4 linked regions of the Homo sapiens genome follow. The protein of the gene in region 4 purifies or fractionates together with the protein of the main gene of each other region. This does not show direct contact. Each region holds a gene or a part of one and is shown on either strand. Other genes may lie near its edges.

Evidence for each region. Proteins that work in one complex are often made in the same cells at the same time.
Region 1: the proteins of GRAMD2B (region 4) and GRAMD1C purify together in Homo sapiens (affinity purification with mass spectrometry; 3 studies listed by BioGRID and IntAct, with this or other methods). This does not show direct contact.
Region 2: the proteins of GRAMD2B (region 4) and TXNDC15 purify together in Homo sapiens (affinity purification with mass spectrometry; 3 studies listed by BioGRID and IntAct, with this or other methods). This does not show direct contact.
Region 3: the proteins of GRAMD2B (region 4) and EFCAB14 purify together in Homo sapiens (affinity purification with mass spectrometry; 3 studies listed by BioGRID and IntAct, with this or other methods). This does not show direct contact.

What each region holds. Positions count from the first base shown.
Region 1 is NC_000003.12:113,901,288-113,904,787, forward strand, and holds part of GRAMD1C (protein Aster-C), read left to right. Parts: intron 1-2,852; coding exon 2,853-2,985; intron 2,986-3,500. UniProt on the Homo sapiens protein: Cholesterol transporter that mediates non-vesicular transport of cholesterol from the plasma membrane (PM) to the endoplasmic reticulum (ER).
Region 2 is NC_000005.10:134,884,371-134,887,870, forward strand, and holds part of TXNDC15 (thioredoxin domain-containing protein 15 isoform 1 precursor), read left to right. Parts: intron 1-3,324; coding exon 3,325-3,500. UniProt on the Homo sapiens protein: Acts as a positive regulator of ciliary hedgehog signaling. Involved in ciliogenesis.
Region 3 is NC_000001.11:46,677,887-46,681,114, reverse strand, and holds part of EFCAB14 (EF-hand calcium-binding domain-containing protein 14), read left to right. Parts: intron 1-2,478; coding exon 2,479-2,654; 3' UTR 2,655-3,228.
Region 4 is NC_000005.10:126,422,164-126,426,208, forward strand, and holds the start of GRAMD2B (GRAM domain-containing protein 2B), read left to right. Parts: upstream 1-1,245; 5' UTR 1,246-1,443; coding exon 1,444-1,526; intron 1,527-4,045.

The DNA.
Region 1 (3,500 bases), on a different chromosome or scaffold from region 4:
GAAAGGTGGGGACAGAGAATAGTTTGCTAAATAGGTAAGCACATATGAGATATATAAGGAAATGTTGGCTATGTCACTTAGGGTAGACTTAAAGTCTGGTTTTAGTAAGCCTGTTTATTAAGGATCTGGAGAAGTACCTAGTGAAATCTCTGAGTTTATAGATGACAGTAAAGTAAATTATATGGTAGGTGTTTTGAAGGATACAATAACATGATTTTTCCTCAGGAATTCCCTAACATAGTGCTTAGCATGTGGTTGGCACTCCATAAATATTGAATACATTAATGGAAGGAGCATATAGCCTACCGTGGAATGCAAATAATTGTAATACAAGGTCGATAATGGTAAGAGTCATAACAGAGTAACAGATAATGTGATAAAGAAATTAAGAGTACAGAGAGACTATTTTTGACTGATGAGGATTCATTTAGAAGAGTGGACATTTTTATTAACCTCTACAAGTAAAAGTGCATTATGTCCAGTGGAAATTGAGGCTGTTAGCAATAAAAACAATTAAGGAGAATACATTAAAATTCTATAGCAAACATTATGCTGAGTGAAAAAAGCCAGTCACAAAAGGCCATATATTGTATGATTCCATGTATGTGAAATGGAGTCTAGAACTGGTAAGTTTATAGAGACAGAAAGTAAATGGTAGTTGCCAGGAGCTGATAGGAAGGGAGAATGGGGAGTGACTGCAAGTGACTGCAAAGCATTTCTTTGTTGGGGTGATGACAATGTTCTACAATTAGTTAGTGGTGATGGTTGCCCAACTCTGTAACCCACTAAATTGTACACTTTACATGAAGTGAATTTTGTGGTGTGTGGATTATATCTTAAAAGCTGTTATTTAGAAATTCTATAGCAAATCTTAAAATGGAAATATTTTGAAAGTCTCAAAGTATGTGCAGAAATTTTACTCATCTAGGTAATCTACTTATGCTGATCCAATTTATATCTTTTCAGCTTAGCATCAGTATTTTATAGGCTTTTTTACATGGTTGCACATGTATATTTTATTAGCTTTCTGTAAAGTTAAAAATTTCCATTGTATTGTTCTCCTTGAGAAGTTTAGTAGCCTCTTGCCGGCTCTGGATTTGGATAGAAAAGCAGTTACTCTAATGCAAAGAGCCTTGGATTATGGTAAACAGGATCTGGATCTTAGTTAGGGTCACCAAACAGCCGAGCAACCTCAGGCAAATCTTTTCATTTTTTTGATTCTCAGTTTTCTCGTCTATGAAATGAGGCAGCTGAACTAGATTATCTTTAAGGTCCTTGCCAACTTGAAAAGTTTCTAGTCTTTGAGGAAAGAAAGAATATTTTTGACTAGCTGCTGTTTTCTTCTGGCGATTGAATGCTTTCTTTTTTTTCTTTTTTGAGACTGAGTCTCACTCTGTCACCCAGGCTGGAGCACAGTGGTGCGATCTTGGCTCACTGCAACCTCCGCCTCCTGGGTTCAAGCGATTCTCCTGCCTCAGCCTCCCAAGTAGCTGGGATTGCGGTGCCCACCACCACGCCTGGCTACTTTTTGTATTTTCAGTAGAGATTTTGCCATGTTGATGAGGCTGGTCTTGAACTCCTGACCTTAAGTGATCCACCCTGCCTCGGCCTCCCAAAGTGCTGGGATTACAGGTGTCAGCCACTGCACCTGGCCTGAATGCTTTCTTTTTTTCTTTTCTTTCTTTCTTTTTTTTTTGGAGATGGAGTCTCACTCTGTCACCAGGCTGGAGTGCAGTGGCGTGATCTTGGCTCACTGCAACCTCTGCCTCCGGGTTCAAGCGAGTCTTCTGCCTCAGCCTCCCAAGTAGCTGAGACTTCAGGTGCGTGCCACCACGCCCAGCTAATTTTTGCATTTTTTTTTTTTTTTAGTAGAGACGGCATTTCACCATGTTGGCCAGGATGGTCTCGATCTCTTGACCTCATGATCAGCTCACCTCAGCCTCCCAAAGTGTTGGGATTACAGGCATGAGCCATCATGCCCGGTCGGCCTGAATGCTTTCTAAGAAAGTGTGTGGCAGGATCCTCATTCTCTCTTCTACTTCTTTTCCTGTTCTTCAGTCTCTGAAAGAAGCATATCTGTTTCAAACCTTTATTTCCTCGGTTCTTCCATCTTCTTCCTCTTTATTTGCAATCTCTCCTTCCTTCTTCCTCCTCCTTTCCTCTCTGTTTTTCCACATCTCACCTCCATCCTGTTGAGCATTGGAAATTAGATCAGTTGTGCTCCCATTGTATTTAATAGGTTTTCCTTTCTTTTTGCTCCTTGAGAAAGGGAAAGCAGATCCCAGGACATTTATTATAGTCTTGGCCATATGATCATTTGACAGCTGTTTCTTAAACCTTGTTCTTAGGGCTGGGAAGAGTGAGGAGGCAGGAGTGGCCAATGGGCTTAGGCTCAGACATCTTGAGCGTCCACTTCTGGGAGGGCTTCGCCATTTCAGCTGAGACTGAGTCAGAAGGAAGGAGATATAAAACTGCCTTCTTGTGCGATCTAGTATCTAACTCAAACATCTACTCTGTACCTGTCCAAGCTTTGTGGTTGTACACAAATGAAATTTAAAGGAGCAATTTTCATTTGATTAGTTACTGTTACGGCCATTTGTACTTTGTTAATTTTTTAATGTTTTTGAGATTTATAGAATCCCATGTGAGTGTATCTTGTTTTCAGAAATGATATCAACTTGCATGTAATTTAAGAAGATAGCCTTGTTATAAGTAAACATTTATTTGCTATATTACAGTAGTCCATTTATTATCAAACTGTTTTATCATAGGAAATGACCTCAGTGAGGAGACCAAATCATTTATTTGTGTGGAGGTGACCTTATATTTCTATAATGATGTGTTTCTTACAGAAGTCCAGGAAGAAGCAGCTTGGATGACTCTGGGGAGAGAGATGAAAAATTATCCAAGTCAATCAGTTTTACCAGTGAATCAATTAGTCGGGTTTCAGAAACAGAGTCATTCGATGGAAATTCATCAAAAGGAGTTAGTATATGATATCCCTTTTAAAATATATCTGGTACTGTCATGTCCTAATCAGAATACAAGATAAATAAGGATACAGTATACAAAATGTTAAAAATAAGATATCAGACTCCTACCTTATTTTAGGAAAAAAGTTTAAAGTCTGTTAGTAGCAGAGATTATGTGGGAAAATATGTGGTTTTGTTCAGAGCTATATAAAAAGCAGAGCTACCGAGCAGTTTTACCTGGGCATCAGTCTGTAGGGGGATAAATATCATTAAAAGAATAATAAGATGGAGAAATTTGTAAGTAGCAGAATTTTCCCCAGGGTAAGTACTGTGTGTGCTGGAAAGAATCTGTTTTTTTTTTTTTCTTTCTTTCTTTCACAGAAGGGAACAGCATGGAGAAAGAATCTGTTTTGAAGGGAGAGATGAGCCCCTGAGCAGCATGCTTGAGTAACAATAGCTGCTTTTTAAGCTTTTTAAGCAGGCAGGTCCAGTTAACTACTAGGCATTATACTCAATTACTTAGTTTCT
Region 2 (3,500 bases), 8.5 Mb from region 4:
CCCAAAAAGCTGGGATTACAAGCATGCGCCACCACGCCAGGCTAATTTTGTATTTTTAGTAGAGATGGGGTTTCTCCATGTTGGTCAGGCTGGTCTCGAACTCCCGACCTCAGGTGATCTACCCGCCTCAGCCTCCCAAAGTGCTGAGATTACAGGTGTGAGCCACCGAGCCCGGCCAATTTGATTGTTTTTATTTTTATTTAGTTATTTTTTTGAGACAGGGTCTCACTCTTTCGCCCAGGCTGGAGTGCAATGGCTTGATCTTGGCTCACTGCAACCTCTGCCTCCCAGGTCGATTTGATATTTTTAATATCTTATATCTTGATATCTACTTTACTTTTTGAATGCAATACAGTTACAATTATTGTTTTAATATCCTTGTCTGCTAATTGTGACATGGGTGCAAGTTCTGGGTCAGTGTGGCTTGATTGATTATTCTCATTATGTGTCCTATTTTCCTGCTTCCTTATATGTCTGATAATTTTTTACTGGATGCCAGACATGAATTTTACTTTGTTGAATGCTGGATATTTTAGATTCCCTATACATATTCTTTTTTTTTTTTTTTCTGAGACGGATTTCTCTCTTGTTGCCCAGGCTGGAGTGCAGTGGCATGATCTCGGCTCATTGCAACCTCCACCTCCTGGGTTCAAGTGATTCTCCTGCCTCAGCCTACCGAGTAGCTAAAATTACAGGTGCCCGCCACCATGCATGGCTAATTTTTATATTTTAATAGAGACAGGGTTTCACCATGTTGGTCAGGCTGGTCTCAAACTTCTGACCTCAGGTGATCCACCCACCTCGGCCTTCCAAATTGCTGGGATTACAGGCGTGAGCCACTGCACCTGGCCCCGTATATATATTCTTGAGCTTTGTTCTGGGGTACAGTGAAGTTACTTGAGAACAGCTTGATTCTTTCAGGTTTTGCTTTTAAGCAAGCAAGCTGTTATTTTCTTTAGGGTTAATAGTGTCCCACTACTGACGCAGGTCCTTTTGTATACTCTACTCAATACCCTGTGAATTATGAAGTTTTTCAGTCTAGCTGGTAAGAAGAGGTACCATTCCCTGCTCTGTGTGAATGTTGGGTACTGTTCCTTCCCATCCTTTCTGGTAGTTCTTTCTCTGGCACTGGGTAGTTTACTCACATGCATGTGATGACCCGTACCCTGCTGTATACTTGGGGGGGCCTCTGCAGATCTCTGGAGTCCCCTCTCTAGATAGCTCCTCTCATCTGCAGTATTCTGTCTTGCAAACTATGGCTTCTTGGTCTCCTTGGACTCTTAGCTCCATCTCCTCAACTGGGAGAGTCTGCTGGGCTCTGCCTGGATTTCCCCTCCCTGAGCCACAGTGGGAACGCCATCAAGGCAGTAAGTTGGAGCAGTTGTAGGGTTCTCTTCATTTGTCGCCTGTTTCTCGGATGTCACTATCCTCTGTTGCCTCATAACTGATTTCCTGAAACTGTTGTTTTATATATATTATCTATTTGGTTGTTTCAGTAGGTAAGGTAAATCTGGTTCTTGTTACTCCATCTTGGCCAGAAGCAGAATTCCCAGATAATGTTTTTGAATCTCTGAATGAATCCACAGAGCTCTATGCCCTAGTGTGAGGTAGATCAGTAGGGTAACTGTAGTTCATAATAGCCTATTGTATATTTTAAAATAGCTAGAAGAGAAGAATTTGAATGATTCTAGCATGAAGAAAAGACAAATATTTAAGGTGATGGATATCCCAAATACATTGATCTGATCTTTACAAATTGCATGAATATATTGATTATCACATGTGCTTTGTGATTATCACATGTACATCTGTTATGCATCAGCAACAACAAAAAGCTCTACAGGGATATTCTTTGAAATCTTATACAAATGTGCATACCTGAGGAAGCCCCCAGACCTTCCCAACTTTGAAGTCAGTTGGTCACTGACACTCCAGTGACATGCTGTTGGCACGCAGAACTCATCACCCAGCGGGTGGTTTCTTAACCACATGGTGAGCTTTCGTGAGGGCTGCTGGCCTCACTGGTTTCTGCTGGTTGGTGCCTGGCACAAAGTCTGGCAGCTGGTGTTGAGTTGATGAGTTGGAGGGCAGGAGGCATTGCTATGGAGGTGAGTGGAGTTGGGTAAATAGATGTACGAGACTACCTGGGACTCTTCCCTTATCTGAGCATTATGCTCAAGACCCACCTTCTAGCTCCAAAGTGGGGGAAAGTTCTCTTCTTCCTCCTGCTGCTGCCTCTGCACTGCCGAGCCCATCTCCCAGCACTCCCAAGGGCAGCAGCCCAAGGGTGGCAGGCAGGAGAGCAGAGTCCAGCTGTCAGAGGCCACCTCAGGAAGGAGCTGCTGTGTGGCTTGAACAGTGTTCTTCAGGCAGTGTGGCTCAGCATCCCCGAGGTATCATGGCAGGGAGCCTACGGCTCGTTCTGGAGTAGCAGCCAGAAAACTTTGCTCGCAGACTTGGCTTTGCTGCTTACTATCTGTGTACCATCGGACACTGTGCTGAGCCTCTCTGTGCCTTGCCTCGTTACCTGTTCAGTGGTCTTGGTAACCCTTGTCTTGCCCATCTCACAGGACTGTTATAATGTGTGCAAAGATGCTTTGTTCTAGTAGAATCTTGCATAAAACCATGATCCTTTTCTTGGATATTATCAAACAAATGAAACTCTTATCAAAAAATGAAAGTGTTTATATTCTATTTTCCTAATGAGATATCTGAACTGGAATGTTTTTGGTTATAATCCACATGGCAAGCAGCAAGTTTAGGGCAGAGCTGTGTGTTTGTCTATTATTTGACATTCATTATTTTGTTTGCTTGTTTGTTTGTTTGTTTTTTGAGACGGAGTCTTGCTCTGTCGCCCAGACTGGAGTGCAGTGGCGCAGTCTTGGCTCACTGCAACCTCCGCCTCCTAGGTTCCAGCAATCCTCTTGCCTCAGCCTCCCTAGTAGCTGGGATTACAGGTGCCTGCCACCATGCCCGGCTAATTTTTATATTTTTAATAGAGACAGGGTTTCACCATGTTGGCCAGGCTAGTCTTGAACTCCTGACCTCAAGTGATCCACCTGACTTGGGGCCTCCCAAGGTGCTAGAATTACAGGTGTGAACCACCATGCCCGGCCTTCTTTGACATTCATTAATTTATTAATAGTACCTGCTTGTGACCTTCTTCCTAACCTGGGAAATGGTGAGTAGCTCTCTGATAGTTTAATGAAAGGAGACCTTTTTGTCTCCAGAGGGGAAAATTTCGTGTTAGAGGGGAACTGTAATTCTTTGGGGTTCATTTGTTTTGAAGTCAAATATGACTCTGAATGTGCTGGCATGTTTTAGTTGCAGAGGAAAGTGGTCGCTTATGGTCAGAGGAGCAGCCTGCTCACCCTCTCCAGGTGGGGGCTGTGTACCTGGGTGAGGAGGAGCTCCTGCATGACCCGATGGGCCAGGACAGGGCAGCAGAAGAGGCCAATGCGGTGCTGGGGCTGGACACCCAAGGCGATCACATGGTGATG
Region 3 (3,228 bases), on a different chromosome or scaffold from region 4:
TGGTAGCGCACACCCTGTAATCCCAGCTACTCGGGAGAATAGCCTGAGCCTAAAAGTTTGAGGCTACAGTGAGCTGTGATCATGCCACTGCACTCTAACCTGGGTGACAGAGGGAGACCCTGTCTCAAAAAAAAAAAAAAAGTTATGTATATAACTGACCTTCCTAAGTGTTTGTGATGAGGCCCTTGAGAAAATGCCAGAAGAAACTATTGATAGACATTCTCTAATCATTTTGGCTCAATATTGCCATTGAAATAAAAAAGATACAGATCAACTGGTAATATTGCTCTTTTTCTTTTTACTGATTTTTAAAAAGTAGAGAGCATGCACTTTGGAGAGATAATTCCTCTGGTTCTTTTTTATTGAAATACAATTCACATACCATAACATTCACCTTTTTAAAATGCAGTGTTTTTAATCCAGTGTTTTTTAGTGTATTCACAAGGTCATGCAACCATCACCACTATCTAATTCCAGAACATTTTCATCACCCCTCACAGAATCTCTGTACCCATTAAACAGTCACTCCCAGTCCCCTCTCCTGCCAGTCTCCAGCAACCACTAGTCTCTTAATCACTATCTCTATGGATTTGCCTATTTGGGGTGTTTCACATAAATGGAATCATACAGTATGTGGCCTTGTGTGTGCTTTTTCTTTCAATATGATTCTTTCACTTAGCATAATGTTTTTATGGTCTATTCATGTTGGAGCATGTATCAGTACTTCGTTCCTTTTTATGGCTGAATAATATTCCATTCTGTTGACCTAACACATTTTGGTCTGTTCATCCGTTGATGGACATTTCGATTGTTCTCACTTTTGGGCTATTAAGAGTAATGCTGCCATGAACATTCATGTGCAAGTTTTTATGTAAACATATGTTTTCATTTGCCTTGAGTATATATATACCTAGGAATGGAATTAATGGGTCATATGATAGCCCTAACTTTTTGAGGAACTCCTACACTTTTCCAGAGTGGCTGTACCATGTTACATTCCCATCAGCAATGTGTGAGGGTTCAATCCACTTTCTCCACATCCTCCCTAATGCTTGGTAAGGCCTGTCTTTTTTTATTATAGCCATCGTAGTGATTATGACATGGTATCTCATTACACTTTTGAGTCACTGGTTCTTGAGCTGCTTAATTTCTGGATCCAGAGAGACAAGTGTCACATAGTAGAAAGAGCACTGGACTAGGTAATAAGAAATTTGTATTCTAGGCCAGGTGTGGTGTCCTAGCACTTTGGGGAGGCTGAGGTGGGCAGATCATTTGAGGCTAGGAGTTAGAGACCTGGCCGACATGATGAAACCGCATCTCTACTAAAAATACAAAAATTAGCCAGGCCTGGTGATACACACCTGTCATGCCAGCTACTAAGGAGGCTGAGGCAGGAGAATAGCTTGAACCTAGGAGGCAGAGGTTGCAGTGAGCCAAGATCATACCACTGCACTCCAGCCTGGGTGACAGAGTAAGACTCCACCAAAAAAAAAAAAAAAAAAAAAAAAAAAAAAACAGGCGTGGTGGTTCACGCCTATAATCCCAGCACTCTGGGAGGCCCAGGTGGGCGAATCACCTGAGGTCAGGAGTTCAAGACCAGCCTGGCCAACATGGTGAAACCCCATCTCTACTAAACATTAAAAAAAATTAGCTGGGCGTGGTGGCGGGCGCCTGTAATCCCAGCTACGCAGGAGGCTGAAGCACAAGAATCACTTGAACCCAGGAGGCAGAGGTTGCAGTGAACCAAGATCGCGCCACTGCACTCCAGCGTGGGCGACAGAGTGAGACTTAGCTTCAAAAAAAAGAAAAGAAATTTGTATTGTATTCCACTTAAGAGTTACATGACCGTAGGCAAGTTACTTTCCTCTTTGAGCTTTGGATTTCCTGTCAAAACTGAGAAAGCTATGAGTGTTTGGGATTGTTTTATGGGCTTCCAAGTCATTCCTCCAGTCTCCACTCAGCCATCCAACAAGAAATCTCACAATATGCCACAGTCTGTTTTATGAGCTAGCTCCTATCACATAACTCATTAGGCCTCTGCATTCCTTTTCACCCCTTCAACATAAGAATAAATTCAGGAAAATCTAAAGGGAAGACGCTGGACAGAGAGAAGATGAGACCATTCATTCTCCTGCGATTATCTGTCACTGCTTCTACTTTGGCAGTGTCTCACTGTGTTGCCCAGGCTGGTCTCAAATTCCTGGCCTCAAGCAATCCTCCTGCCTCAGCCTCCCAGAGTGTTGGGATTATAGGCATAAGCCACTGCACCCAGCCTTTTTTTTTTTTTTTTTTTTAATATATTTTTAAGGGATCAAAAATTAGTCTTCCTGATTTAGTGAAATCCTAAACTTTACCATTTGGAAACAAAATTTGCGGAGTAGCTTTTCTTTTAGTGTTTTAAATTCAGTTGAGACTACTTTTAACTAAATTTAGCTGTATGTTTAGACGTATACATTTTTTGTAATTCATTTTTGACAGATCTTCAGGATTTATTCCGCAAGACTGGCCAGGACGTGGATGGGAAGCTGACCTACCAGGAAATCTGGACCTCCCTAGGTTCTGCTATGCCAGAACCAGAGAGCTTGAGAGCATTTGATTCCGATGGAGATGGAAGATACTCATTCCTGGAGCTAAGGGTAGCTTTAGGTATCTAGCTTCATCAGGCATATTTTAGAAATGGACTGCCTAATATCTATTTACCTAACAACAAAACAACCCTTACTTACCCATCAGTCCTCTAGTCCTCCAAACTACTGTAGCAGATACTTTGCCACCTTTTAACTTGTTTGAAGAAGCTATATAAAAGTTATTTTTTTAAAGAAGAAGACCATTTTACTTATGATGTTCAGAAATCTATGATTTCCTACAACCAGTAAGATCTTACATTTTAAAATTGCCAGAAAAAAAATTAAAGCCCTCTTTTTTTCTCTTTCCTTTTTTTGAGGGGAGGAGACCTTATCTTTTAAAGCTGGGAAATGTATATAGAGAGAGAATAAGCCACTTTTATATTTCACTTAAATTTGCCTTAAATTAGCTGCACTTTATAGAGACTCAGAAAATGTCTTTTCTTTAAAAGATAGGCCTTTTCTGTTTGTAAATATTTAAATGAAAGAAAGCATTGTGCATATTGTGTGGAAAGTAGGAAGAATGGTTTTGAACAGGATATGAACAAATGACTTATTAAAAATTGCTGATCTGGTGTAGGTGGCAGCTGAAACTACATCCATG
Region 4 (4,045 bases):
AAACTGTCTTATAACATGGTGACATTTATGCACGGATTTTTTTTTTTTTTTTGAGACAGGGTCTCACTCTGTTGCCCAGACTGGAGTGCAGTGGTGCATCTTGGCCCACCACAACCTCCATCTCCCAGGCTCAAGTGATTCTCCTGCCTCAGCCTCCCAAATAGCTGGGATTACAAGCGCCTGCGCCACCTCACCCAGCTAATTTTTGTATTTTTAGTAGAGATGGGGTTTCACTAGGTTGGCCATGCTAGTCTCGAACTCCTGACCTCAAATGATCCACCCGCCTCGGCCTCCCAAACTGCTGGGATTACAGGCGTAAGCCACCGTGCCTGGCCCCTGCACAGACCTTTTTTAAAGCTCATCATCTATCCTTAGTGTTAGTATATTTTATGTGTGGCCCAAGACAGTTCGTCTTCTTCCAATGTGACCCAGGGAAGCCAAAAGATTGGACACCCCTGATTGAGAACAATGCCTGGAACTTTGTAGCTCTCAAAAGTTTGTTCAATGAATGAATGAGTGAATGCTTCCAATACAAAACCTTAGAACAGGCAAGTCAAAATGTCACCAAAAGGTGGGAAGAAGAGGCATTCACGGTACTGGTTGAGTGCATAGTAAATAAGGTACTTGCACAACTATGGGCAACAAAGAGACGGCTTGGGAATTATCAAACACCAATTTTGATTTTGATGAGAACAGTCATAACCCAATATTTGAAGATTTTGATGGTTGCTTCTTCTTTGCCCCTCTAACCACCCCCCCCACCCCAGAACGATGAAGGGTTAACCAAAACACCACCAAAGGCAACTACTTATTACCTTTGTTATTCCCACATAAAAAATTGAGCAGACCTATTGTTTAAGCAGAAGAGGCAGTCCCTCAATGAAGCAATATCCTGTTTGAATAATTTAGGATGGGGCATAGGCCAGCCCACACAGCGCATTTGTGTGACAGGGCGTCCCACTCAGACGTCTCCATTTCCGGTATCTAGAGCCGGCTGCCCTCTAAAAATCCCCCTGTTACAGTCGGGATAGAAAACAAAAAGCTTAATTTACCAGGAGGCTAAACAGATTGTGCCTTCTTAGGCAAATGTTCCACCTGCTTGGCCAATTAGCTTCCTCTCCCGAAAGACTCGTTCAACAGGTTTCCTTTTTCTCTTCTCTGCCTCCTGGGTTGGGGAAAGAGGCTGTCACTTCGCTTCGACCCTCCCCTTCCCTCCCTCTCGGCTTTTCCACAGTGGGTCGGACCAATCGCGCCCGCTCCGACGTGTCCAGGTCCGCGGCCCCGGGAGCTTGGCGCGGCCCGGCCTGGATGCGCTGGGCGGAGGGTGCAGGGGAGGGCACGGCGCCGCTTGCTTGGCCTGCGCACCCGGACCTAGAAGCCGGGACGAGCCGGGGCAGAGCCAGGCGCGCGGAAGTCTGAAGGTGCCCTCCAGACACGGCCCCGATGACTGAACTACAGCAAGATGTGGAAGACACAAAGCCTGCGAAAGTGCTCGGGAAGAGGGAGAGCAAACTTGGCTCAGCCCAGTGAGTATTCTCAGCTGGGACCCATCCAAGGAGGTGGGAGGAGCGCAGCCTAAACTTCTCTGCCCCGGGACGCATTTTGGGTGGATGCGGATTTCTGGAGCTCCTATATGGACAATCTTGTGGCGCGCTCTCTCTGTCTCTCACTCTCTCTCTCTGTCTAGATATTCAGTTAAGGAGATGGTTTAGATTGATTGAAAAGTCTACTGTAGGATTTAAACAAATTCTCTTAATTCAAAACTCACTGGATGTTGGGAAAATAATTTTGTAGAAAATAAGCCTAACCACATTGAAGCTCAAAGTCCCAACACAGCCCTTCGTTTAGAATGACCATTTTCACAAATTCATTTTAGTTCAGCAAATAATTGAGTATCTACTTGTTCAATAACGATGGGCAATACAAGGATAAATGTTATTTTGGATCTGCCCTTCTGGAACTTCAAGAGCAGAGTGGGGATGGGGGAGGCACAAATGAATATTACTGTACTTCAAGGGACTTTGGTGACCATTGCCACATTAAACACACAGACAAGGTATGATAAAGAGTTTAGCCTATAATTGAGTCTTCTCTACTTTTAAAATATTTATCTATTTTGCAGTCTTTGGTAAAATTGGTTTGGGAGGAGAGGTTGTTTTTTTCCTACAAAGTGGTATTTTCTAAGCCTACTGAAGTCACTTCTAATTCAGTCTATGATTTTAGACACTAACCCTTCTGAGCTCTAAAACTCTTGTTCTGGTATCAGGATATGAGTAATTTAGGAAGGAGGGATATGTATTATCATAAGGTTATACTGATGTGATAATTCCACTTTGAAATCATTTTAAGTTGCCAAATTTTTGTGCTTAGAAACCCGGTCTAACTTCTGTTTTGAACTTCATAACTTACATTAATTATCACTAGGCTCAAAGTCTTGTTGAAGTCTGGGTGTCCCCATGGACATTTCTTCTAAGAGGATTAGAATGACTTGCTCCTCACAATTTCCCTGCGTCTGTAACTGCACCCATGTAGACCTCATCACCTAGAGCCTTAGCCTCCTAAATAATAGTAGCTGGCACTTACTGAGAATGCTTACTATGTGACAGGGAGTGTGCTCAATACTTTAAATGCATTCTCACAAAGAATGAGGCAGGTGCTATTATTTCCATGTTGCAGATAAAAGCACTGAAGCTCTGAGAAGCTAAGCAGCTAGGCAGAGTCACAAAGTTAATAAAAGAGCAGCCAGGATTCAAGCCCAGGTCTCCTAACTTTACAGCATGAACTTAGAACCACTATGCTGTACACTGGTTCCTCTGTTCCAGAATCTATGATGGCCTTCCATGGCCTACTCTTAAAAATAGGCTTCTCTGCCAAGATTTTAAGATCCTTCATGATCTGGACCCACACAGACCATTGCAACCTCACTTCCTAATACTAGTCAGCATGCACATCTTTTATAGCCAAACAATCATACTAGCAGCCCTATACTTAAAGGAGTGATATGCAGCACTCCCATGTTCATTGCACATTACTCACAATAGCCAAGATATGAAATCAACCTAAGTGTCCATCAACAGATGAATGGATAAGAAAATGTGCTATATACACAAGATACGAAATCAATCTAAGTGTCTATCAATGGATAAAGGGATAAGAAAATGTGGTATATATACACAATATTATTCAGCCTTTAAAAAGAAAGATCATTTGTGACATGGATGAACCTAGAGGACGTATGTTAGACAAAATAAGCCAGGAATAGAAAAACAAACACTGCATGTTCTCACTTAAGTGTGACATCTGAAAAAGTTGACTCAGGCCAGGCAGGGACTGTGGCTCATGCCCATAATCCCAACACTTTGGGAGGCCGAGGCTGGAGGATCACTTGAGCCCAGGAATTTAAAACCAGCCTGGGCAACAAAGTGAGACCCTGTCTCTACAGACAAAAAAAAATAAGTTAAGCATGATGGCGCACACCTGTGGTCCCAGCTGCTCGGGAGGCTGAGGTGGGAGAATCTCTTGAGCCCAGGCAGTTGAGGCTACAGTGAGCCATGTTCATGCCACTACATTCCAGCCTGGACACAGAGTGAGACCCTGTCTCAAAACTAAAATTTAATTTAATTTAAAAATAAATTTAGAAGTTGGATTCATAGAAATAGAGAGTAGAATGGTGGTTTCCAGGCGCTGGAAGGTAGAAAGGGTGGGGAAGGAGGGAATAGGGAGTTGATCAGAGGGTACGAAGTTTCAGTTAGGAGGAATAAGTTTTGAGTTCTATTGCACAGCAAGGAGATTAGTGAATAATAATATGTTGTATATTTCAATATAACTAAGAGTAAATTTCAAATGTCTCACCATAAAAAATGATAGGTAAGCAAGACCATAGGTATGTTGCTTGATTTAATCATGCCACATTGTATACATATACCAAAACATTACCCTGTACCCCATAAATGTAAACAATTATGATTTGTCAATTAAAAATAATATTAATTTTAAAATAATTTAAAAATATATTTCTTATAAAATTCAAAAAAAGAAGTGATAT